Homo sapiens: one gene and its partners. The protein of the gene in region 4 purifies or fractionates together with the protein of the main gene of each other region. This does not show direct contact. Each region holds a gene or a part of one and is shown on either strand. Other genes may lie near its edges.

Region 1 (3,500 bases), on a different chromosome or scaffold from region 4:
TCTTTCTGGTTTTGAAAGAAAACTTTTATTAACCAAAGAGAGCCTAGCCCCTTGGGGTCACTTTGACTCTAAAATCTTTGACTCCATGACAGATCTAAGTTCTATGATAGGAAGCATTTCTTTATTCTTTTGGTGTGTGGGTTTAGTATAGAGTGTATTTCATTTATTTATCTATTATTATTATTACTTTTCTGAGATGGAGTTGCACTTTTGTTGCCCAAGCAGGAGTGCAATGGAATGATCTCAGCTCACTGCAACCTTTGCCTCCTGGGTTCAAGTGATTCTCCTGGCTCAGCCTCCCTGGGACTACAGGCACGCACCACCACGCCCTGCTAATTTTTTTTTTTTTTTTGTATTTTTAGTAGAAATGGGGTTTCACCATGTTGGCCAGGCTGGTCTCAAACTCCTGACCTCAGATGATCTGCCCGCCTTGGCCCCCCAAAGCACTGGGATTACAGGCGTGAGCTACCGCGCCTGGCCTATTTATCTATTTTATTTTTTTTTGAGAAGCAGTCCGCTCTGTCGCCCAGGCTGGAGTGCGATGGTGTGATTTCACTGAAACCTCTGCCTCCTGGGTTCAAGCAGTTCTCCTGCCTCAGCTTCCTGAGTAGCTGGGATTACAGGCGCCCGCCACCATGGCCCGGCTAATTTTTGTACTATTAGGAGACAAGGGATTTCACCATGTTGGCCAGGCTGGTCTCGAACTCTTGACCTCAAGTGATCTACCCACCTCGGCCTCCCAAAGTTCAGGGATTACAGGCGCGAGCAACTGCACCAGGCAGTATAGACTGTATTTCTACTACTTTTTTGGCTTTTGAACAAATTCAGTTGTTATACAGCTTTGAGATCAGAAATAATTTATTAGCTCATTACCTGTAAAGGAGCACAAGTTAGTCCTGTGGGGAACGTTTGAAGTCTTGGAGAGAAGATCTGCCTTTTTGTAAATAACTGGGCAACAGGAAGACATCCTGCCTCTTGTACCCCCATACCACTTCCTGTTGAATTAGCATTAGTATTAACTGCCTACAGAAAAAGCAGTGCTGAGGCTTTGCAGAACTAGCAGGAGCCGAAAGAGAACTGTGGGGCCCTTTGGGTCAAAATGGGTCATCTGCCATGGGAATAGATGTTGAAGAACACATCAAACTTTGGAAGGTGCTTCCTATGGCCCATATGAAACCAGTGTGAGATGCTGGGGTTTGCACGGGAATCAGCTGTGAGTGCTTATCAGGGGGTGATGGGTAAACCCAGGCCATGTGACTTCACAAAGCCTCTTCTTAGCTTATAACAGTCTGGGTCAAGTTTTCTTTAAAAGTAAACCAGCAAGTTTTGCCATCTGCCTTTGTTTGAGAAGAGATGGGACACTCATAAAAATTGCTTAAAATGGAAGTGGGCAGAGAAACCGTTGGCAGCCAGCCAGGGAAATTTTCTTTGTAAAGGGCATGTAAGCGAGAAGCTTGTTCTGGGACAAAAAAAGGGAAGAGTTCATTAAAGAAGAAAGAAAAAAGATGACGACAACAGTAGTGACTTTGGGAGATGAGACTCAGCCAGAGCTAATTATAGATTGCCTATTTAAGGCATTTTCATGTGACCAAATACAATCTGTGTCTTAAAACAAATTTAAAACATAGGTTAGAACTCAGGCAGCCAATTAGAGGAAGAAAGCAAGCTGTATTCTGTGTAAACAGTTGTCTCTCCAGCTGAGGCTTTGGGGCTCTTGTAAGGGGCTGGTGTTTATTGCAGGTGAGGTTCTAGATGAGCTGCAGTTTGCTCATTTAGAGACTGGCATCCACACCATCTCTTTTGAGCCCCACAAAAATTTGTTAAGTAAGCAAGTCAGTAAAATGATTTTCACTCCATTTTACTAGGGAAGGAACAATGGTTCAAAAAGACAATGGAACAACCTCAAAGATCATTTGATCGCAAGGAAATTGGACCAGAGAAGGAATTGGAACCATCTTCTGATTCCTGCTCCTCTCCTCCTTAACACAGTTTTTTTCAGGAACATGAAGAGAATTCTCAAGTTCTTTTGGGGAAACTTGAGAAAGAGGAGGAGAGATAATTTAGAACCACATATTTTGCTCCCAAAGTATAGGTTTCAAGATTATCCAGTTTACCCTGTCAAAGAACAAGAATCCGCCCTCCCCCATTTCTCTCCCTGACCCGAGCAGTGCACATGAGGCAATCCCTATTGACTTGAAATTATTGAATGGAGATCAGTAATGTCAAGTTGGTATTGCTTAATCAGACAGACTGTTGAACTCTATACTTTTTAAATGTTTGGCCATTTGTGGATGTTTATCAAAAGAGCCAGACTTAGATAAGACAGTCTACAGAAGAAAGCTCCTTTCCAAGAGATAGACATTATTCGCTATAATATAATGGCCCTTTAGGAAAAGAAAAATGCTTTTCACAGATTGGATTAAATTCATATATTAAACTAATTGTGTTATATTGTTGCATAATCGGTCCCTGGCTCAAAGTCATAATTATCAAGTCAACTAGAATACTTTTTTTTTTTTTTGAGACAGAGTCTTCCTCTGTCACCCAGGCTGGAGTGCAGTGGCGTGATCTCAGCTCACTGAAACCTCTACCTCCCCGGTTCAAGCAATTCTTTGCCTCAGCCTCTGGTGTAGCTGGGATTACAGGCCTGCGCCACCATGCCCTGCTAATTTTTATATTTTCAGTAGAGACTGGGTTGCGCCATTTTGGCCAGGCTGGTATCCAACTCCTGGCCTCAAGTGATCCACCTGCCTCAGCCTCCCAAAGTGCTGGGATTACAGGTGTGAGCCACCATGCCTGTCCTTGAGAAGATTTTTTTGTGTGTGTGTGACGGATTCTCACTCTGTCACCCAGGCTGGAGTGCGGTGGTGCAATCTCGGCTCACTGCAACCTCCACCTCCCTGGTTTAAGCAATTCCCCTGCCTTAGCCTCCCAAGTAGCTGAGATTACTGGTGCACACCACCACGTCAGGCTAACTTTTTTGTATTTTTAGTAGAGACAGAGTTTCACCATGTTGGCCAGACTGGTCTCGAACTCCTGACCTCAGGCAGTCCGCCCACCTCAGCCTCCCAAAGTGCTGAAATTACAGGCGTGAGCCACCATGTCCAGCTGAGAAGATTTTTTTTTAATAAGTTGATATTTGGAAAGATGCAGTCCCATACCCTGATCCTAAAACCAAGTAACAAATAAGAATAGGGCTGGGTGTGGTGGCTCATGCCTGTAATCCCAGCACTTTGGGAGGTCGAGGCAGGTGGATTACCTGAGGTCAGGAGTTCAAGACCTGCCTGGCCAACATGGTGAAACCCCATCTGTATTAAAAATACAAAAATTAGCCGGGCGTGGTGGCACACGCCTGTAATCCCAGCTACTCGGAAGGCTGAGGCAGGAGAATTGCTTGATCCCAGGAGACGGAGGTTGCAGTGAGCTGAGATCGTGCCAACACGGGCCTGGCCGACAGAGCCAGACTCTGTCTCAAAAAACAAAACAAAACAAAAAAGAAC
Region 2 (3,362 bases), on a different chromosome or scaffold from region 4:
CCTGCTGTGGGTCGCAGCCCTTCCAAATGTGGCAGGACCCTCGAGGGAAGGCCTGTCATCTGTGTCCTCTGCCCCTCTGTTCACCACTGTTGTCTCTTCTCCCTCTCCCTCCCTTTCTCTTTTCTCCTCGGGTCCTCACCGTAAACCTCCCCTTTTCTGTTCCCTCACAGACACTCTCCCAGAATATGTCCTTCCTATTCCTGCTGTAGCTGGGGGGATGCGGATACAGGGGTGGGTGGAAGGATGGGGAGAGGGTGCAACTTCTCCAGCAGCCCCAGAGCCAGGCCCTCGGCCAGCAGAGCAGACAGGGACATGGATCCCCAAGTCCCACCTGTCACTTTACAGAGAGAGGAAGGGACATGTCCACAGTCACACGCCTGTGACGAGTGTCCCATCTCCAACGCCCAGGCAGCCCTCTTCCAGGTTCCCACACCGCCAGGTCCTCCCTGCACCCTTCTGCTTCTCTTCAGCATCTTCTTTTTGGGGCCTCCCCAGACCCCAACTTCTGCCTTCCCCAGAACTCCCAGGAGTGGGTGACCCCCTTCCGAAGGCCCACCCTGGGTAGAGGGGTGTGTGTTACACGGATATGGACAGAGGGCAGGGTTTCCCTCTTCCAGGCCATGCTTCCTCTGCTCCCTGACTCATCTCTTCCCCTCCCCAAGGACTTTGTTGAGACCCACAGACCCCCGTCTTGGGTCCCGGCACCTGCCACGCTCCCCTTCCCTGAGGTGCTGGTCTCTCAGAGCCCCAGGCCTGGGTGGAGGTGGCCGCAGAGGGAACAAGCAGCCTCCTCTGCCCTGCTTCTCCCTAGGTTGTTATTAACCCCAACTTCGAGGTTGCAGAATCCGATTACTCCAACAACATCATGAAATGCAGGAGCCGCTATGACGGCCACCGCATCTGGATGTACAACTGCCACATAGGTAAGGCCAGGCCGCCCCCACTCCAGGAAGCAGGCGGGAGCTGCCCTACTTTCTCAAGGACCCAGAGGCAGCTTCCTAATTTGGGTAAAGAGCTCGGGGAATGCAGCCAGCATCACATTTCCACATTCAGGACAGAAGCCACAGACACACAGGCCTGGATGGAGACTGAGTTTTTACAGCCAGCTCCGGCCACGGATAGAGGATGGTACAGGACCAGGCCAGCCCAGTGCAGACCCCAAGGCTTTTTAAGGGTTGGAGCTGAGGCCACTGGCTCATTATGTATGTGACCTCAAAAATGTGGGCATCAGCAATCTGTGGGCTCTGCCTATCAGGTTTTTCTGTCGAGAGCTGGAAGCTAGCAAACTACTGTTATTTCTAGTCTCCAATAAAGACACTTTTTTCCTTGGATGATAGGACTTGGGGAACAAAAGGGAAGGCAGAGCTTTTTCCTCTGCAGGAAAAGTCATGGGCCTCACTCTTGGCAAAAGGTTAAAATTAAAGGCGCTATATTTATTCACTCGTTCACTCAACTTTGACAGAGCACCTGCTATGTGCCCAGCCCTAGAGATGGCCAGTGCCTGGCACCTGTCCTTTTGAGGAGGGCACACACAGGTGGCCCCAGCAGCCCCTGAGGCCCACTCCCCTGGCTCAGGGTCAGGCAAGGCCCGAGCATCTCATTTGTCCACTCTCTCTACCCGATTCTCGCTCTTCAGGTGGTTCCTTCAGCGAAGAGACGGAAAAAAAGTTTGAGCACTTCAGCGGGCTCTTAAACAACCAGCTGTCCCCGCAGTAAAGAAGCCTGCGTGGTCAACTCCTGTCTTCAGGCCACACCACATCTTCCATGGGACTTCCCCCCAACAACTGAGTCTGAACGAATGCCACGTGCCCTCACCCAGCCCGGCCCCCACCCTGTCCAGACCCCTACAGCTGTGTCTAAGCTCAGGAGGAAAGGGACCCTCCCATCATTCATGGGGGGCTGCTACCTGACCCTTGGGGCCTGAGAAGGCCTTGCGGGGGTGGGGTTTGTCCACAGAGCTGCTGGAGCAGCACCAAGAGCCAGTCTTGACCGGGATGAGGCCCACAGACAGGTTGTCATCAGCTTGTCCCATTCAAGCCACCGAGCTCACCACAGACACAGTGGAGCCGCGCTCTTCTCCAGTGACACGTGGACAAATGCGGGCTCATCAGCCCCCCCAGAGAGGGTCAGGCCGAACCCCATTTCTCCTCCTCTTAGGTCATTTTCAGCAAACTTGAATATCTAGACCTCTCTTCCAATGAAACCCTCCAGTCTATTATAGTCACATAGATAATGGTGCCACGTGTTTTCTGATTTGGTGAGCTCAGACTTGGTGCTTCCCTATCCACAGCCCCCACCCCTTGTTTTTCAAGATACTATTATTATATTTTCACAGACTTTTGAAGCACAAATTTATTGGCATTTAATATTGGACATCTGGGCCCTTGGAAGTACAAATCTAAGGAAAAACCAACCCACTGTGTAAGTGACTCATCTTCCTGTTGTTCCAATTCTGTGGGTTTTTGATTCAACGGTGCTATAACCAGGGTCCTGGGTGACAGGGCGCTCACTGAGCACCATGTGTCATCACAGACACTTACACATACTTGAAACTTGGAATAAAAGAAAGATTTATGAAACGTGTCTGTGTTTCCTTTGACCCACAGCACCTGGGCCCTGAGCAGCAGGCTTCCTATGTTCAGTGGCCAGAAGCAGAGCTTCAGGTACATTCGTGGTTTTCTCCGGTGGACATGGGTCCTCAGATCCCCTCCAGCCCAGTGTGGCCACCAGGGCACCTCCTTCAATAGACTCCAAAAGGGGCAGCTCCTACCATCTGGGAGAAGCAATCTAAGGAGATCACAAAAAGTAACGGAACAGGAGTCATAATCTTTCTTGAACTCCTGTGGTTTTTACTGAAACTTGTCAGAAGGCATAGGAGTTGTGCGAGGGCTGGATGGGAAGTCTAGATTTAAACAACAGCCACCAGGCAGCTTATCAAAGCAAGAGGGCATCCGTTCACAGGACAGGGGCTCCCAGCAATTCCCAGTGGCAGTGGGGGGGTGGCTGGCCCATGCGACTCACCCAGACACAGGGGACTTCCCCTTGTGTCAACAGCATGCTAGGGCCCAGCAAACTAGAGGGTAGGTAGGACCACCTTGGCACCAACTCCACTCAAACCACAATTGAATGAGGGCGTCGGCACGCATTCAGATCTCACCTCTTGCCTTTGTTTACATTTATTTTGCAGGAACTGGCACTGACTGACAGGTAAGACCAGGACCAGCCCAGGGGTCCCAGAACTGTCCCACAGCACAGGCCAGAAGGCTGGATACCTGAACTGCCAAAGGAGTGTGGGCAGGTGCTACACAGCAGGTGCAACCCAGCTCCCAAAATTGGGCAGGCTGTGCACAGAGGCCCTGCAG
Region 3 (3,500 bases), on a different chromosome or scaffold from region 4:
GCTCATCTTCAGAAGTCTCAGCTCTGTAATCTTTTATTCCTGGTTTTTATTCAAAAAGGACACAGCATGCCCACATTCATGCTGTCAGCCAACACATGTTTGTTTCAAGTGCCTGTGACATGTATGGCACTGTACAAGGGGCTGCGTGGGACACCAAGAAATACAACATGTAGTTCTTTGCCCTTGAAGTTTATAGTATAGTTGGGAATTCTTGTAGATGTATGTGTAAGTAAAATTCCAAACCAATATAGGAGTTAGATAGCAATATTAAATGAAAGTGCAAGACATGGTAGGGCCCCATTTTCATTCACTGAGTCAGTAAATACTAGGCATCTCGTTTGTGTCAGGCACTATTCCAGACACTTGGGATATAACAGTGAACACAATATAGTACCTGTCCAGAGTACTTACAGCAGTAAAGCTGTTCCTCCCAGGGAAGGCCCTGGCAGCTTCACTGGGTGAAACCCTTCTGCTCTCTGCCCTGGAGCACCTTGTGGTCTCACTGGTGGCACTTCTTTTTTTTTTTTTTTTTTCTTTTGAGATGGAGTCTTGCTCTTGTTGCCCAGGCTGGAGTGCAATTGCATGATCTCAGTTCACCGCAACCTCTACCTCCCGGGTTCAAGTGATTCTCCTGCCTCAGCCTCCTGAGTAGCTGGGATTACAGGCATGTGCCACCACGCCCAGCTAATTTTGTATTTTTAGTAGAGACAGGGTTTCTCCATGTTGGTCAGGCTGGTCTCGAACTCCCAACCTCAGGTGATCTGCCCGCCTCGGCCTCCCAAAGTGCTGGGGTTACAGGTGTGAGCCCCTGCACCCGGTCCTGGTGGCACTTCTTACACAGGGTGCTGGTGGCTTATTCAATGTCTGTCTTCTGCATTAGCTATAAACTCTGGGAGGACTGGGACCCTGTCTCACCATTGTTCATTGTTATATCTGCAGGACGTTAGAGCTCAGCTCAGAGTAGGAACTTAATATTCAAATGAATGAATGAATAGGTTGATAAGTGCCAAATGAGTTCAGGCAGCATATACGGAGTTTAGATATTGAGTTTACATATTCGTATCTTTCCGTGTAAAAGTAAAATCAATCTGGTTAGTCCATGATTAGAATTTGGAGCTAAAAATAAGGACCAACCATGGGGTTAGTCAGTAGAAGGTGAATGGAAGATTGTGTAAAATGGGAAATTTTGGGGAAATTACTCTAAAGGGAAAAGAAAAAGGTCTACATTTTGGTTATTATATGAAGATTTCTTTTTTTTTCTTTTTTTTAAATTTATTATTATTATACTTTTAAGTTTTAGGGTACACGTGCACAATGTGCAGGTTAGTTACATATGTATACATGTACCATGCTAGTGCGCTGCACCCACTAACTCATCATCTAGCATTAGGTATATCTCCCAATGCTATCCCTCCCCCCTACCCCCACCCCACAACAGTCCCCAGAGTGTGATGTTCCCCTTCCTGTGTCCATGTGTTCTCATTGTTCAATTCCCACCTATAAGTAAGAATATGCGGTGTTTGGTTTTTTGTTCTTGCGATAGTTTACTGAGAATGATGATTTCCAATTTCATCCATGTCCCTACAAAGGACATGAACTCATCATTTTTTATGGCTGCGTAGTATTCCATGGTGTATATGTGCCACATTTTCTTAATCCAGTCTATCATTGTTGGACATTTGGGTTGGTTCCAAGTCTTTGCTATTGTGAATAATGCCGCAATAAACATACGTGTGCATGTGTCTTTATAGCAGCATGATTTATAATCCTTTGGGTATATACCCAGTAATGGGATGGCTGGGTCAAATGGTATTTCTAATACTAGATCCCTGAGGAATCGCCACACTGACTTCCACAATGGTTGAACTAGTTTACAGTCCCACCAACAGTGTAAAAGTGTTCCTATTTCTCCACATCCTCTCCAGCACCTGTTGTTTCCTGACTTTTTAATGATTGCCATTCTAACTGGTGTGAGATGGTATCTCATGGTGGTTTTGATTTGCATTTCTCTGATGGCCAGTGATGGTGAGCATTTTTTCATGTGTTTTTTGGCTGCATAAATGTCTTCTTTTGAGAAGTGTCTGTTCATGTCCTTCGCCCACTTTTTGATGGGGTTGTTTGTTTTTTTCTTGTAAATTTGTTTGAGTTCATTGTAGATTCTGGATATTAGCCCTTTGTCAGATGAGTAGGTTGCAAAAATTTTCTCCCATTTTGTAGGTTGCCTGTTCACTCTGATGGTAGTTTCTTTTGCTGTGCAAGAAGCTCTTTAGTTTAATTAGATCCCATTTGTCAATTTTGGCTTTTGTTGCCATTGCTTTTGGTGTTTTAGACATGAAGTCCTTGCCCATGCCTATGTCCTGAATGGTAATACCTAGGTTTTCTTCTAGGGTTTTCATGGTTTTAGGTCTAACGTTTAAGTCTTTAATCCATCTTGAATTGATTTTTGTATACGGTGTAAGGAAGGGATCCAGTTTCAGCTTTCTACATATGGCTAGCCAGTTTTCCCAGCACCATTTATTAAATAGGGAATCCTTTCTCCATTGCTTGTTTTTCTCAGGTTTGTCAAAGATCAGATAGTTGTAGATATGTGGCGTTATTTCTGAGGGCTCTGTTCTGTTCCATTGATCTATATCTCTGTTTTGGTACCAGTACCATGCTGTTTTGGTTACTGTAGCCTTGTAGTATAGTTTGAAGTCAGGTAGCATGATGCCTCCTCCAGCTTTGTTCTTTTGGCTCAGGATTGACTTGGCGATGCGGGCTCTTTTTTGGTTCCATATGAACTTTAAAGTAGTTTTTTCCAATTCTGTGAAGAAAGTCATTGGTAGCTTGATGGGGATGGCATTGAATCTGTAAATTACCTTGGGCAGTATGGCCATTTTCACAATATTGATTCTTCCTACCCATGAGCATGGAATATTCTTCCATTTGTTTGTATCCTCTTTTATTTCCTTGAGCAGTGGTTTGTAGTTCTCCTTGAAGAGGTCCTTCACATCCCTTGTAAGTTGGATTCCTAGGTATTTTATTCTCTTTGAAGCAATTGTGAATGGGAGTTCACTCATGATTTGGCTCTCTGTTTGTCTGTTGTTGGTGTAGAAGAATGCTTGTGATTTTTGCACACTGATTTTGTATCCTGAGACTTTGCTGAAGTTGCTTATCAGCTTAAGGAGATTTTGGGCTGAGACAGTGGGGTTTTCTAGATATACAATCATGTCGTCTGCAAACAGGGACAATTTGACTTCCTCTTTTTGTAACTGAATACCCTTTATTTCCTTCTCCTGCCTAATTGCCCTAGCCAGAACTTCCAACACTATGTTGAATAGGAGTGGTGAGAGAGGGCATCCCTGTCTTGTGCCAGTTTTCAAAGGGAATGCTTCCAGTTTTTGCCCATTCAGTATGATATTGGCTATGGGTTTGTCATAGATAGCTCTTATTATTTTGAGATACGTCCCATCAATACCTAATTTATTGAGAGTTTTTAGCAGGAAGGGTTGTTGAATTTT
Region 4 (2,689 bases):
GGTTGGGGAGGGAGAGAAGTGCCTCAAGCCCCACCCTCATGAGGGCTCTCCATAGGTTGAACAGAGCTTTTCTGTTTGCATAATCTTGGTGCAGGGGGTGCACTGCCTCAGGGGAAGTGTGCCAGCACCTTTGTGGGGAAGCGCCAGCAGCTTGGGCCTGGCTCAGCTGCATAAGGCCTTCTTTCCTGAACTTGCCCCTGTGGGTCCCAGGCACAGGTTGAACATCACCCCATGCTCTGGGGTCCCCCGTCACCCTCCCGCATGCCCTGGGGCCCAGGGATGGCTCACTCACGGTACTGGCAGCGGTCGCCCAGGAAGCCGGGTAGGCATCGGCACTGGGGCTGGTTGCCCTGGTTGACAGTGCAGGTGCTGTTGTTGGCACAGTAGCCCGCACACACCTGCTGGGTGCATTTGGGGCCCGTGAAGCCCGTGGGGCACCGGCACGTGGGCATGCCTGGTGGGAGAGGATGTGTGAGCGCGACTGTGGCCCTCGAGACCACCTGGCCCTATAGCAGAGGAATGGGCTGGGGGGACCTGGGCGAGAAGCAGAGACTGGAGTGACTGGATGCTGGGTTGTGGAAAGGAGGCTGGAGGCGAGGCAGGGGCTGGGCATTTGCCTGAGGTGGGGTGGTGGGTGGCGGGGCTGGGGCCCAGGGGCAAGGAGCAGGCGTGGCGGGATGAGGGGGCATACCAGAGGGGGAGGCAGCACAGGTGCCCCCATTGCGACAGTGCTCCCAGCACTGGTCCAGTTCACACTTGTCACCCGTGTAGCGGGGTTGGCAGCGGCACTTGGGCTGCCTCCGTGCATTGAGGAAACAGCTGCCACCGTTGAAGCACTGCAGGTTACAGGTTCCAGGCCGGGGAGCTGCAGGAAGGGCCCGTCAAGGGGCAGAGCCAGGGGAATAGGAGGAGAGGGACAGGCAACAAGGTCAGGGGAAGTCAGGAGCCACAGGAAGGAGATGGTCCTGAGGCATGGCTGGGACTGGGAGGGCATAAGCATACCATCTGGGGGGGGCGTTGGAGAGGGCACAGGCACGCATGTGCCGTTGTCCAGCCGCTTCCCATTGGGACAGGTGCAGACAGGCCCACTGGGGCTCAGCAGGCAGAGCCACTCGCATTTCTTGCGGTCACATGGGTTGGTCACTGCAGGTATGGGTGGGGTGGGGAGGATGCTGAGCAGGACCCTTCTCTGAGCCCTGTGAGCCCAGGGTGACCCCCTCTCCACCAGGTCCCAGGGCCACAGCTTGGAGACTCAATGCCCACAGGCCTCCCTTCCCCAGCCCAGGCTCCCCTCTGCCCCCACCTTCGGGCTGCTTGTGCTGATGGTAAAGGACCACGTCAGAGGCGTGGCTCAGGCCCCCTGTCAGGTTGACCAAGGGGCTGTGGCCAAACTTATGGATCTTGAAGACACGATTATTGATGTAGGTGACACCATAGATGTAATCCTCAAAGACGTCGATGCTGAAGGGGTGACTTAGGCCTGGGGGAGGAGGTGGAGTCAGAGGGGACCTGAGGGGCACTCAGGCCCTGGCCATGCTGTCCACGACACTGGCACCTGTGGTTCCCAGACACCTCAAACTCAACACATCCAGACCAAATTCTCTCTCCCCACACCGGTTCCTCCTCCTGTGGCCACTACTGGCAAAAGGTCCCATCACCCCCAGACTTCTGGGGTCAGTCATGACTGACTTCTATTCCTTCTCCCCCAATTTGCTACGTTCCTAATGTACCTATGCTGCCTCCGTGCAACCCAACCAATGAATGGACAAGTAGGCCAGAGGGTCAGGGTGGGTCTCAGGCCTGCAGGGCTGGTTCAGGGGGAGGCCAGCTGGAGAGGCCTGGAAGGCGCTGCAGCATTGCTGGGGGTCAGTGACAAAGGATGGGAGGCATTGAAGTGAGGCCTTTGGCTCAGTAGGGAGGATGGCAAGGCTGGGGACAGGGCTGGGGACTGCGACTTATGCCGGGCTCTGACCTCGTTTGCTGTCAGCAGCCACAATGGGGTCCGTGCCATTGAGCCGGATGCTGCCGATGACTGAAAGCTTGGCGTCTGCCCAGTACAGCCGCTCATTGTGATAATCCACGGCCAGGCCTGGGGAGAGAGAGAGCACTGTGAGAGCTTGGCCTCCCCAACCCAGGCTCGGGGTGGAAAGAACTGCCTCCATGCCCGGGACAGCTCCACCCTGTTCATACGCCACTCACAGTCACCTCTTTCGGGAAAAGCCTCCACGGCCAATCTGCCCTGCCCCAGTCCAAGCCCCATCCCATCCCTTGCTTTTGTGTGACTTCAGCAGCAGCTGGGCTCTGCGAGCCGGGCCCCCTCCATGCCCGTCCCTCCTGCACCCTGCCCCACAAACCTGTGGGCCACTGAATGTTGTCCTGCACCAGTGTCTCCCGAAGCGTCCCATCCATCGCTGCCGTCTCAATCTTGGGGTGGTTGCCCCAGTCTGACCAGTACATGGTCCTGGGGAGGGAGAAGGGGTGAGTGTGGGCAGGCCGGAGGGCCAGAGGAGGCAGGCCCAGGCAGGACACCAGCTTCTTGGTCTGGGGACAGGGACTGCTGGGGACTGGGAGGAGGGCATTCTGTCCTTCTACAGAGAAGCAGGCGGGAGTCTGCTTCTGAGCAGGTTGAGGGGCTTTTCCTCTAAAACCACAGTGTGCTCATTCAGAGCCACCGACGCTGGCAGAGCTG

The links. The genes of interacting proteins can lie anywhere in the genome.
Region 1: the proteins of LRP1 (region 4) and SLC25A25 purify together in Homo sapiens (affinity purification with mass spectrometry; 2 studies listed by BioGRID and IntAct, with this or other methods). This does not show direct contact.
Region 2: the proteins of LRP1 (region 4) and LOXL2 purify together in Homo sapiens (affinity purification with mass spectrometry; 2 studies listed by BioGRID and IntAct, with this or other methods). This does not show direct contact.
Region 3: the proteins of LRP1 (region 4) and KCTD18 purify together in Homo sapiens (affinity purification with mass spectrometry; 2 studies listed by BioGRID and IntAct, with this or other methods). This does not show direct contact.

What each region holds. Positions count from the first base shown.
Region 1 is NC_000009.12:128,071,232-128,074,731, forward strand, and holds part of SLC25A25 (mitochondrial adenyl nucleotide antiporter SLC25A25), read left to right. Parts: intron 1-3,500. UniProt on the Homo sapiens protein: Electroneutral antiporter that most probably mediates the transport of adenyl nucleotides through the inner mitochondrial membrane.
Region 2 is NC_000008.11:23,296,397-23,299,758, reverse strand, and holds the end of LOXL2 (lysyl oxidase homolog 2 precursor), read left to right. Parts: intron 1-811; coding exon 812-923; intron 924-1,636; coding exon 1,637-1,716; 3' UTR 1,717-2,862; downstream 2,863-3,362. UniProt on the Homo sapiens protein: Mediates the post-translational oxidative deamination of lysine residues on target proteins leading to the formation of deaminated lysine (allysine).
Region 3 is NC_000002.12:200,500,069-200,503,568, reverse strand, and holds part of KCTD18 (BTB/POZ domain-containing protein KCTD18), read left to right. Parts: intron 1-3,500.
Region 4 is NC_000012.12:57,208,483-57,211,171, reverse strand, and holds part of LRP1 (prolow-density lipoprotein receptor-related protein 1 preproprotein), read right to left. Parts: intron 2,462-2,689; coding exon 2,355-2,461; intron 2,090-2,354; coding exon 1,973-2,089; intron 1,481-1,972; coding exon 1,304-1,480; intron 1,144-1,303; coding exon 1,003-1,143; intron 866-1,002; coding exon 692-865; intron 455-691; coding exon 293-454; intron 1-292. UniProt on the Homo sapiens protein: Endocytic receptor involved in endocytosis and in phagocytosis of apoptotic cells. Required for early embryonic development. Involved in cellular lipid homeostasis.